3 linked regions of the Homo sapiens genome follow. The protein of the gene in region 2 interacts with the protein of the main gene of each other region in a biochemical or structural test. Each region holds a gene or a part of one and is shown on either strand. Other genes may lie near its edges.

Region 1 (3,825 bases), on a different chromosome or scaffold from region 2:
AAACTCCAAGACTGTGTGCTTAAAGGAGAGATGGGAATATCAGTAATATCTCTATTTGTCCGGACTGCCACTTAAGGAAAGAGGGAGGGGGGACCTTGGCATGACATCGCCCATTGAGAACGAGACCACAAATCTGGTCCTCCTCTTCAAAGGCGTATTTTCTTAACCAAAAGACTGATATAAATTGGGCCCAAACCCCAAAAGAAAATTTCCTGCCCTCTTCCCAAGGAGTTTCTTGCTAAGTCACTGAAGAAAGGTAGCATAACATATAAAGCTATGGTACCTTGCTCTCTCCTACTAAATACGGAAAACCTCTTCCCCTCTACTGCTACGTTTAGAGGTGCAGAGTCAAAATGTGTCGACCACCTCAAAGGCATTTTCTCATGTGGGAGGCTAAAGAGGGTAAATATGCAGAGGCACTGCGTTTCCCAAAGGGGCAGGGAGATGAGATTAGACGAAGGGGAATGGCAGGGAGCCTCGAAGCTGAATGTTAACAGCATCAAAAGGCAACTCCCGACCGAGGAGCCGGTGGCAGAAAGAAAATCCTGCCAGATTCGGTGGGTGGATGCTGCGGATTGCTCGGTGGGCCGGGCTGCCTCTCCTCGGCGGGTGCTGAGGCTGGACCGCCGCACCGGGGGCCAGGGAGACGGTGGGCCACCCTCCGCTGGTCAACCCCATCTTAAGGACCAGTCGGGGACGGAATGCCTGGAAGGCCCTATGAGTGCCCCGGCGGCGCGGGGCTGAGCCGGTCCCCGAGCCGATAACTGAGGGTGGGGTGGGGACTGCGGTGCTCGTCTCCGCGGCCGGGGAGAGCAGGGCCGATCCTTTTCCCCAAGATCAGAGAGCTACCTGGTCCCCACGCCCTTCCAACCCAAGAATACTTTTCTTGCTAAGTCACCGAGGGAGGAGGGCGATCCCTTCTTGGGGAGGGCCGCGGGGCGGGGGTCGCAGAGGCGCCGGCAGCCCCCAAAGCCGGGCCCGGGAGGAGAGGAGCGAGGGCAGCGCCCTCCCCGGACAGTCCCCCTCCTCCGGGTCTCTCACTCAACGGCCGTCGCGGCCGCCATTTTGAGAGCGAGGAGAGAAGAAGAAGGAGGAGGCGGCGGCGGAGGCAGGGGGAGGGGAGAATGGGAGGGAGGGGACCGGCGCAGCCACATCGTCAGGCCGCCGGGTCCGGCCTGCAGCCGCCCGGGCGCGGTGGAGGAGACAGAGGGGAGGGCGCAGACCCGCGCCGCCTTACCGGAGCGCTGCACCGCCGCCTCCGCAGGGCCTCTTCCGTCCTTCACTCCCATCCACCGGCGGGGGAGGGGGAGGGAGAGGGGAGGGAGGAAGGAGGGAGGGAGGGAAGGAGGGGGGAGGATGGCGCGCTGGGCCCGGGCCCGGGGAGGGGGAGGGGAGGGGAGCGGGCGGGCTCCTCAGCCGTTCCGGGGCTCGAGTCCAAGCTCGGCGCTCGCGGTTTCTCTCGCTCGCGCCCGAGCGCTCCCCTCCTTCTCCTTCTCGCTCCCTAGACTCCCGTGTCGCTGCTCCTCCGCTCGCTCACTCGCTCTCCCGGCCGCCGGACTCCGCCGCCGCCCCGCCGCTCCAGCTCCGTCTGTCACAGGAGCTGCCCCAACGCCCTGACGTCACCGCGCCGCCGCCGCCGCCGCCGCCGCCGCCCCAGACCCGCCAGGAAGAGGGAGGGGCGGGCGCCGGGAGCGGAGGAGGGGCTGCGGCGCATGCGCCGGGCTGGGCCGGGCCGGGGCCGCGCTGCCTTCTAGCGGGCGGGCGGCTGAGCGGTGCCACCCGGCCGGCGGGCGAGTCTGCGTGCGAGGTGCTGCTTCTCACGCTCCGCACGCTTCTGTTAACCTTGGGAGAGGCTCTTTTTTCCCAGCCCCTCGTCTGACTTGCGGCCCCTTCTGAACTCTGGCTCTGCTCACCTCGCTGCCCTGCTTTTGCGCTCATGCGGCCGACCGCGGCGTCCCGTTGGCACCGTGTGTGGCGGGCCCCGGGAGGCGCGAGAGGCAGCGGGGCCCGGCCACCTACCGCCCCTTTCTGCCTCCGGCCTCCGAGATGATTTCCCAGTTTGGGGGGGAATGAGGGAGGGGAGTAGGCTGGCTGGCTTGGGAGGAGGAGCTGTTGAGGTTAAAAGGCAGATGGAATGCTGTCATTGTCTTGATTTGTATTATAGATTCTTAATTGGGAGGACTCGCTTTTGGATATGATTCAGCTATTCTTCTCCTTAGTCACACACAGACATCAGAGTCTCTCCAGGTCTCGAAACGGATGCCCAAAGAAAGGCCTGGAACTGTATCCCTATAAGGGATGTCTGTGTGTGTTTGCTAAATTATGGATTGAAATATTGATGACAAGAGTCGTCTTGGGGATTTGTAGTTAATTTATTCCACACAGATACCTATGATTTTTCTTTTCTTTTCCTTTTTTTTTTTTTTTTTTTTTTGAGACGGAGTCTCGCTGTGTCGCCCAGGCTGGAGTGCAGTGGCGCGATCTCGGCTCACTGCAACCTCCGCCTCCCGAGTTCAAGCGATTCTCTGCATCAGCCTCCCGAGTAGCTGGGAGTACAGGCACTTGCCACCACGCCCAGCTAATTTTTGTTTTTTGTTTTTGTTTTTGTTTTTGAGATGGAGTCTCGCTCTGTCGCCCAGGCTGGAGTGCAGTGGTGCAATCTCCACTCACTGCAGGCTCCGCCTCCCGGGTTCACGCCATTCTCCTGCCTCAGCCTCCCGAGTAGCTGGGACCACAGGCGCCCACCACCACGCCCGGCTAATTTTTTTGGTATTTTTAGTAGAGACGGGGTTTCATCATGTTGGCCCGGATGGTCTCGATCCCTTGACCTCGTGATCCGCCCGCCTCTGCCTCCCAAAGTGCTGGGATTACAGGCGTGAGCCACCGTGCTCAGCCGACCCTTGATTTTTAAAAAGCGAGATTTGGGGTTCTGAATAATTCAATATGGGCTATTATTTTAATAACAGGTTTAAATGAGATTATCTTATCATTCATTTGTATTGTCCAAGGAAGCTTTTTTCTTGAAACAGGCTTAAGCTTATGTGTACTGATTTTATTGCGTCACTTTATGTAGGTAAATATATATATATATACTGCATTTGAGAAGCAGCAGAGTTAACGAAAGAGACAACTTAGGTGTAAATCCTGGACCCCGCACTTGCCAGAAGCGCGACCTGGGGCAAATTACCATACCTCTCTTTGGCCTCAGTTTCTCAATAAAAGACACCTAATAACTAACCCGGCTTTTGTGAGAATTACAGAGGAGGTGCAGCCTGTGTAAAGTATCTTAGTTTCGTGGGGACTTATAGGTAACTCATGTAAACATTACTGTTGCTTGATACCAAAACAAGTTTCCTTTGTTCAAGAAAGGTTATCTCTGCCAGGCACAGGTTGCTAACCCCTGTAATCCCAGCAATTTGGGAGGCCAAGGCAGGGATGGGGAGGTTGGGAGGGGGGCCGTGGATCACCTGAGCCAAGGAGTTGGAGACCAGCAGGTGCAACATAGTGAAACCTCATCTCTACAAAAAAATTTTAAAAATTAGCTAAGTGTGGTGGCACATGCCTGTAGTCCCAGCTACTGGGGAGGATGAGATGGGAGGATTGCTCAAGCCCTGGAGATCCAGACCAGCCAGGGCAACAAAGCAAGATCTCATCTCTAAAAACAAAAAAAGAAAAGAAAAACAGCCGGGCGCGGGGACTCACGCCTGCAATCCCAACACTTTGGGAGGCTCAGACAGGTGGATCACTTGAGGTCAGGATTTCGAGACCGGCCTGGTCAACATGGCGAAATGCCATCTCTACTAAAAACACAAAAATTAGCCGGGC
Region 2 (3,600 bases):
TACTACAGTTAGAGAATTATATTCATTTTGAAAAATTGTGTAGCTAGACTACATTATCTATGAAATTCATTTCAAGGTGTGAAAGGAGGTATTGCAAATATTTGTAATAAGAAGGGGGTGCTGGGTCTGCAGGTGGAGAACTACCCACAGATTCAATCACCCAAGACCTGATGCCCATTTTGGTGAATGAGTGGATGTTTTCACTCTCTTGACATCAGCCTGTTTTTGGCTTTGCTTTTATTCCACCCTCCTTGCTGCCATGAAGGACTGTTTTTAAATGCATATATGGTACTTCATTGTCTTAAGTATAAGGCTCAGATGTCTTAGCTTGGCTATGCGTCCTTGGGGGTCAGCTCCTTCCACCTCTTCATCACTATCTTCAATCCATATCCTCACTGCACCTTGCCCTCCAGCATTTGCAAACAAAACCCAACCTGCTGTCTCTTGTCTCTGCTGGCCCATCTGCCTGGAAAGCCATCCCCCTGCTTCTGTGCTGTCTAACCCTGATTTGCTCTTGGAGACTCAGTTCACTATCACCTCTGTTGGATGGCTTCTTGCTCCTGTCAGCACCACTGGTCCTTCTCTGGGCTTCCACAGTACCCTGTGCTCACCTCTATCATGACACTTGTCACACTGCCTTGCAATTGCCTGGTTGTTCTATCTTCCCTGATGAGACTAGAAACCACCTGCTGGCAGGAACTCTTTATTCTCTCTCTCTTTCCACCCTGCCTAGCATGGTTTGGGACGGGAGAAAGGCCCTACATAAAGGTAAATGAGTCCTAGTCAATACATTCACTGCATTTTTCCCGGTGTCTAATTAAACCCACAATGCATAAGTGCTGTGATCTCTGATGATTCTACTGTTGGTGGCAGGTTTTTTTTCCCCTCCCATCTTTTATTTTTTTTCCACAAGGAGCTAACAGATGGGCTGTGCACACTTTTCTGGAGAGAGCTATTAGCATGTCTCTCTGGCTTCATGCCATCTGCTCCAGACCAAAGTACAATATTCAAAAGAAAAAAGGCAGCACAGGGTAATTGGGTATCATGTTTAGGAGCCTGCAGGTCCCACTCACTTTTCCTAGGGGTTCCCTGCAGGCTGGCTCTCCTCGGCCTGTGAGTTAAGGCTGTCTGGCCACATGGTCTTGTGCATGAGCGAAGGGACACGTCAGCAGCAGGACAGTGGTGGCACTGGACAGAGGGAGCCACTTGGTGGCTGCCACTGCAGCCACTTAACAGCTTGTTAACTGTTTACAATTAATGTCCAATAGTGGAGGGAGGAGGTACTAAGGAGCATCTGTTTATGCCGTGAAGTTCAGAGCAATCATAAATCTCCTTGCTGTGGAGTGAAAGGGAACACCTGCCTTGCTGCCTTACAGTTAGGTTTTTAAAAAGTGTTGAAAATTGTGATTTACAGCCAGATGCTGACACCTGGGGATGCCCCCATTATTTGAAAAAAGAAAAAAAGGCAGACTGAAATATAAGAAAAGCACTAAAAACGAAGGAACTCCTCCAACATTTATACAGAACTTGTATGACATCTCTTATCTACATTATCTCATTTGATGGATTCATTCATTCAAAAATACCTCCACTAGGTGCCAATCACTGCTTTAGTGTGTGGAGACAAAACAAAGAACAAAACAGTCACCAAAAAAAAAAATTCTTACCCTGTGCAGCTTACATTTTTGTGAAGGTGATCCTTTCCACAAGCCTCTGGGGTGAGTGTGATTGCTATCTCTTTAATTTGTATAGGAGAAATTGCAACTCCATGAGGGAAAGATTTGATGCAGCTACACACTGTATGAATAGCAGATCCAAGGCTCCTGAAGAACCATGTAGCAAACATCTGTTGAGTGCTTACTGATGGAAGCACTGCCAGGAACTGTTGTACCTATTTTACAATGTGCATTTACTCATGCAATCCTTAGAAAAACTCTATGAGGTAGAATTATGATCATCCCCATTAAAACGGGGTAAGTTCCCTGAGGCTCAGAAGATATTTATCTGAGTATGGTGCAGCTGGCTAGTGGCAGAGCTTGTGTTCATACATAGTACATTCTCCAGGCCACCCATTCTCCTGCTGTCTGCTATAAGCAGTCAAGAGGCTGAAGACCTAAACTTTATTACAGGCACTAATTTCCAGGTAAAGGAAAAAATATAGGTAGAACAGGACATATATTCATCTACTGTAGAAATCAGAGTAATCATAATAATACAGCATATTCTACACTAAATATTGATGATGTGCCAGCATTTTTCAGTGTGTAGTGATACCACTTCTACAGCTGCAGTTAATGTAGTGATTCATTTAATTCTCTTGATATTGTTGCAAAGTAAGTATTATTTTACACTCAGTTATAAAGATGAAGAAACTCTGACTCTGACAGGTCAAGTAATTTGCCCAGGAGTCTAAAGCTTAGAAATAATGGCTGAATCAGGATCCAAACCTGGCCCATTAGATTCAAAAGCCCCCAGGAGCCAGTCCATCCGTTGTATCACATACTCCAGTTCACTTCCCTGTCTCCTTATCACTGGCTGGACAATTAGTCACAAGGAGATCGGGATTCAATAGCTACAGAAATTTTTATGGCCAGTTAAGGGAGAAATAGGGCACACAGTTTAACACCAACTGAAGCCAGTTCTGTCATATTAACTAGAGTCAGAAAGCAAAAACATGCTAATTGAAATTAATTTTAGACTCGTGTTCTAAAAGTTGAAATCTTGGAGGTAATCTATCAAAATTTTAGCAGCTAAAGAAAGGAAATCTGGATATGTGGAAGTGGCTTGTCCATAGCTTCCAATGTGGCTGGTTAAGCAGCAAGACTAAAACCCAGGTCTTCCAAGTCCCTAATCTGGTACAGGTTTGAAAGAGGGCCCAGAGCAGTGCTGTGACTGACCCAGTGATATGGTTTGGCTGTGTCCCCACCCAAATCTCACCTTGAATTGTAATAATCCCCATGTGGAGATAAATGAATCATGGGGGTGGTTTTCCCCACACCGTTCTCATGGTAGTGAGTAAGTCTCATGAGATCTGATGGTTTTATAAAGGGGAGTTCCCCTGAACACAAGCCCTCTTGTCTGCCACCATGTAAGACATTCCTTTGCTCCTCCTTTTTCTTCCACCATGATTGTGAGGCCTACCCAGCCATGTGGAACAGTGAGTCCATTAAAACTCCTTCCTTTGTAAATTACCCGGTGTCAGGTATGTCTTTATCAGCAGCGTGAGAATGGACTAATACACCCAGGCAGGTCCTCAGCGTGTTTTTAATCAAATGTTAGGGCTGGAAGAGATATAAAATTGCATCTAGTCCCATCTTCTCAATTATAGAGAAGGGAATGGAGACTTGGGGGACCAAGTCATTCCTCTGCCTGGAGTACCTGGAACTCTGATGCCTACTTGAGACTTTCCTGTCCCTGCTAGTCCTGTCACATGTCACCTAGGCAAGAGCCCCTCGTGACTACAGGGGCTCCACTTACACCTGCCCTCTGCCTGCACTCAAAAGCCCCCATGCTCTGGTCTGCATTTTCTTTTGTCCCTATCACTTCTCATTTTTAAATATATTATGCAAATTACTTATTTTTATGTTATTTCCTGTCTTC
Region 3 (3,825 bases), on a different chromosome or scaffold from region 2:
CTTAATGCCTATATTTTCTTCTAGGAGACTTAAACTTTTAGCTTTTACATTAGGTCTACTATCCGTTTTGAGTTAATTTTTGTTTTTTAATTTTTTTGTTTGGTGTGTATGTGTGTACATATATATATATATGTACATATATATATATACACATATAGAGAGAGAGAGAGAGAGAGAGTGAGAGAGAGAGAGACAGAGTCTCTCTCTGTCACCGAGGCTGGAGTGCAGTGGCACGATCGTGGCTCACTGCAACCTCCGCCTCCTGGCCTTAAGTGATCCTCCCACCTCAGCCTCTCAAAGTTCTGGGATTACAGGTGTGAGCCACCGTACCCAGCCTTGAATTTTTGTGTATGGCATGAGAAAGGAGTCCAACTTTATTCTTTTTCATGTGAATATTCAGTTGTTCTAGCGCCATTTGTTGAAAAGATACTCTTTCCCCATTGAATTGTCTTGGCATCTTTGTTGAAATCAGTTGATTGTAACTGTGAAGGTTAATTTCCGGACTCAGTTCTATTCCATTGAGTTGTATGTCCATCCTTATGCCATTACTGTCTTGATTCCTATAGTTTTGTAGTACTTTTTGAGATGGAAAAGTGTGAGTCTCCAACTTTGTTGTTTTTCAAGTTGGTTTTGACTATTTTGGGTCTCTTGCATTTCCATATGAATTTTAGGATCAGATTGTCAATTTCTGCAAAGAAGCCTACTGAGATTTTAATACCCCCATGTTGGCAAGAGTGTGGAGTTGAGTCAGTACATCAATTTGGGGAGGGAATATTGGCATGTCAACAATATTATGTCTTCTGATCCATGGACATAGGCTGTCTTTCTGCTTATTTAGGTCTTTTTAAAAACTCTTTGAACAATGTTTTATATTTTTTCTTTTGTTCGTTTTCCTTCCTTCCTTCCTTCCTTCCTTCCTTCCTTCCTTCCTTCCTTCCTTCCTTCTCTTTCTTTCTGTCTTTTTTTTTTTTTTTGTCCCACTGTCACCCAGTCTGGAGTGCAGTGGTGCCTGGCTCACTAACTACAACCTCCACCTCCCTGGCCCAGTGTGTCCTGCACTTCAGCCTCCTGTGTAGCTGGGACTATAGGCACACACAACCATGCCCAGCTGATCTTTATATTTTTAGTAGAGATGGGGTCTCACCGCATTGCCCAGGCTGGTTTCTAACCCTTTGGCTCAAGCCATCCACCTTGCCTCAGCCTCCCAAAGTGCTGGGATTATAGGTATGAGCCACTGTGCCTGGCCCATATTTTTTCATAATATAAGTTTTGTATTTCTTTTGTTAAATTTATTTTTTAGTATTTGTTTTTGATCCTATTGTAAATTGTTTTCTTAATTTTAATTATTTTTGGATTGTTTATAGCTAGAGTATAGAAATTTAATTGCTTTTTGCACATTCATGTTATATCCTGTAAACTTGCATAACTCATTTATTAGTTCTATTATGTATTTCTTTTTAAATTGTGAAATAACATGTATGTGGTAAAAAGGTCAAATAGTGCGCAAGGGAATATAAGGAAAAGTGAATCTTCTGCCCTCTCACCCCTGCTCCCACTAAGCTAAACTATTGTTTAGTTTTTCTTAAGCTGTTTCAAGCTGAAGAAAGGAGTGGGATATTAAAAAACAGTGCTTCACTGTTAGCTGAATATCTTTTTTTTAGACAGGGTCTTACCCTATCACTCAGGCTGGAGTGCAGTGGTACAATCATAGCTCACTGCAGCCTCAGCCTTCTGGGCTTAAGCAGTCCTCCCACTTAAGCCTCCTGAGTAGCTGGGACCACTGTTGTGCACCACAATGCCTGGCTAATTTTTTTAATTTTAATTTTTGTAGAGGTAAGGTCTCCCTCCCTATGTTGCCCAGGCCAATCTTGAACTCCTGGGCTCAAGCAGTCCTCCCACCTCAGCCTCCCAAGGTGCTGGGATTACAGGCGTGAGCCACCGCACTGGGCCTTCTTTTACTTTTGACCTTGTGCTTGTTTTTTTCTTCTTGGAGGATTACATATAAGTCAACTAGACTCCCTAGTTTATTCTCTTTTTACTTACACTGTTAAGAAAATGAGATCTGGAATGTGAAACAGATGTGATTCCTTATCTGATTCTGTCTTCAGGGGTCAGAAAAACCTTTGGTGTGGCAGAAAGACATGGGTATTTGGGTGTTTATACCTGGAAGAGATTTCTTACCCCTAACATGGTCTTTGTTGGGAGAAACGAAAAATAGTGCATGGCTAGAAACTAGGTTTGTGCCCAGGACCTCTGGCATGAGGACTGGAAGAAAGTTACTGACGATTAATGTTCGACTTCACCCTTACTCTTTTAGTCCCAGTTGGGTCTTATCCTGGATTCTTCACATTTTTAACTGCTTCTGTTAGCATGCTCTAAATGTGAGAGTTCTAATTGTTTGTTGGCGTTTGTGGGCAAACAGTAAATGGTCAGATTAATACCAGGGAATATCAGAAAATTAACAGGTTTCAAATTGCTATTTGTAAACCTAAAGGCTAAAAGTAATACAATTAAATAGGCAAGTATATGTGGTCATTAAAATTCAAGTAGGCAAACAATCAGATAATTGTATGTTGCATATTATCCTGATCTCTTTAAGCACAGTGTTATCTTTGGGAATAAATTATTAGATGTATAAATTACTTTTATCTCTGAAACATCATGTTGAGTTTACCAGTATTACAGCCAATCCCCCAAAGCTTTCTGTTTGCCACAGTTTAATTTACTAAAGAATATATAAATACCAGTGAGGGACAGGACAAATTCAAAGAGGCATTTGAACCCAAAATTATTTCTTAAAACCACTTGAGTTAAATATATTCAGGTGAGAAATTCACGTGTGAGTTCTTTTTCTTTTCTTTTAATGGAGAGGACCAGCCATGTGGGTAGAGGAGAGAAGTAGGGCTTCAAAATACAAGACTTAGTTTTGAAGGGGTGGGAGTGCCAGGGAGGGGACTAGGAGAGGCTGGTCATGAACCAGAGTGCTGTGACTGTCCTGGACAACCTCCCTGTTAGATGGGCAGAGGTGCAGGCACTCTAGAGACCCTCCTGGAGAACCCTGCTGAGAGGTTCCTCGGCTATGGCAGAGCTACCGATAATTCTTCCTTAGGGCAGGTGTTCAAGGCAGGCCGGCTTTAGTGGCTCCATGCCACAGCAAGTTCTCTAAGCTCAGTGGGCCTCAGTTTCTTTATATGTGAAATGGGGATGGTGGTGTTTGCCTCAAAGTATAGTTTTAAAGACTAAATAAGTTATCATTATTATTTTTGTTTTTTTTTTAGAGACAGGGTCATACTTTGTCACCTAGGCTGGAGTGCAGCGGCACAATCTTGGCTCACTGTAGCCTCGAGTTCCTGGCCTCAAGTGATCTTATCTCCTTGGTCTCCCAAAGTACTAGGATTATAGGCGTGTGCCACTGCACCCAGCCTGAGTTAAATGTTTTTAAGATGAGCTTAACTTGTTCAGTAACAATAAAATAATGTATTTTGATTTTTTTTTTCCCCTGGAAAGTATGTTGTCAGTGATCATGGAAAGGCCTTGGGATGCGGTGTACATGCTTTCATTTGTTTTGTTTTCATGCCTTCAAATAAAATTTTAAAACTATCTGGGCCGGGCATGGTGGCTCATGCCTATAATCCCAGCACTTTGGGAGGCTGAGGCAGGTGGATCACCTGAGGTCAGGAGTTCGAAACTAGACTAGCCAACATGGTGAAACCCCGTCTCTACTAAAAATACAAATATTAGCTGGGTGTGGTGGCGGGCGCCTGTAATCCCAGCTACTCGAGAGGCTAAGGCAGGAGAATCGCTTGAACCTAGGAGTTGGAGCTT

Evidence for each region.
Region 1: the proteins of DAB1 (region 2) and PAFAH1B1 form a complex in vitro, tested with the Homo sapiens proteins (one study listed by BioGRID).
Region 3: the proteins of DAB1 (region 2) and SOCS7 form a complex in vitro, tested with the Homo sapiens proteins (one study listed by BioGRID).

Annotation. Positions count from the first base shown.
Region 1 is NC_000017.11:2,591,419-2,595,243, reverse strand, and holds the start of PAFAH1B1 (platelet-activating factor acetylhydrolase IB subunit beta), read right to left. Parts: upstream 1,591-3,825; 5' UTR 1,238-1,590; exon of another isoform or gene 850-1,237; intron 1-849. UniProt on the Homo sapiens protein: Regulatory subunit (beta subunit) of the cytosolic type I platelet-activating factor (PAF) acetylhydrolase (PAF-AH (I)), an enzyme that catalyzes the hydrolyze of the acetyl group at the sn-2 position of PAF and its analogs and participates in PAF inactivation.
Region 2 is NC_000001.11:57,018,461-57,022,060, forward strand, and holds part of DAB1 (disabled homolog 1), read right to left. Parts: intron 1-3,600. UniProt on the Homo sapiens protein: Signaling adapter of the reelin-mediated signaling pathway, which regulates the migration and differentiation of postmitotic neurons during brain development.
Region 3 is NC_000017.11:38,389,751-38,393,575, forward strand, and holds part of SOCS7 (suppressor of cytokine signaling 7), read left to right. Parts: intron 1-3,825. UniProt on the Homo sapiens protein: Substrate-recognition component of a cullin-5-RING E3 ubiquitin-protein ligase complex (ECS complex, also named CRL5 complex), which mediates the ubiquitination and subsequent proteasomal degradation of target proteins, such as DAB1 and IRS1.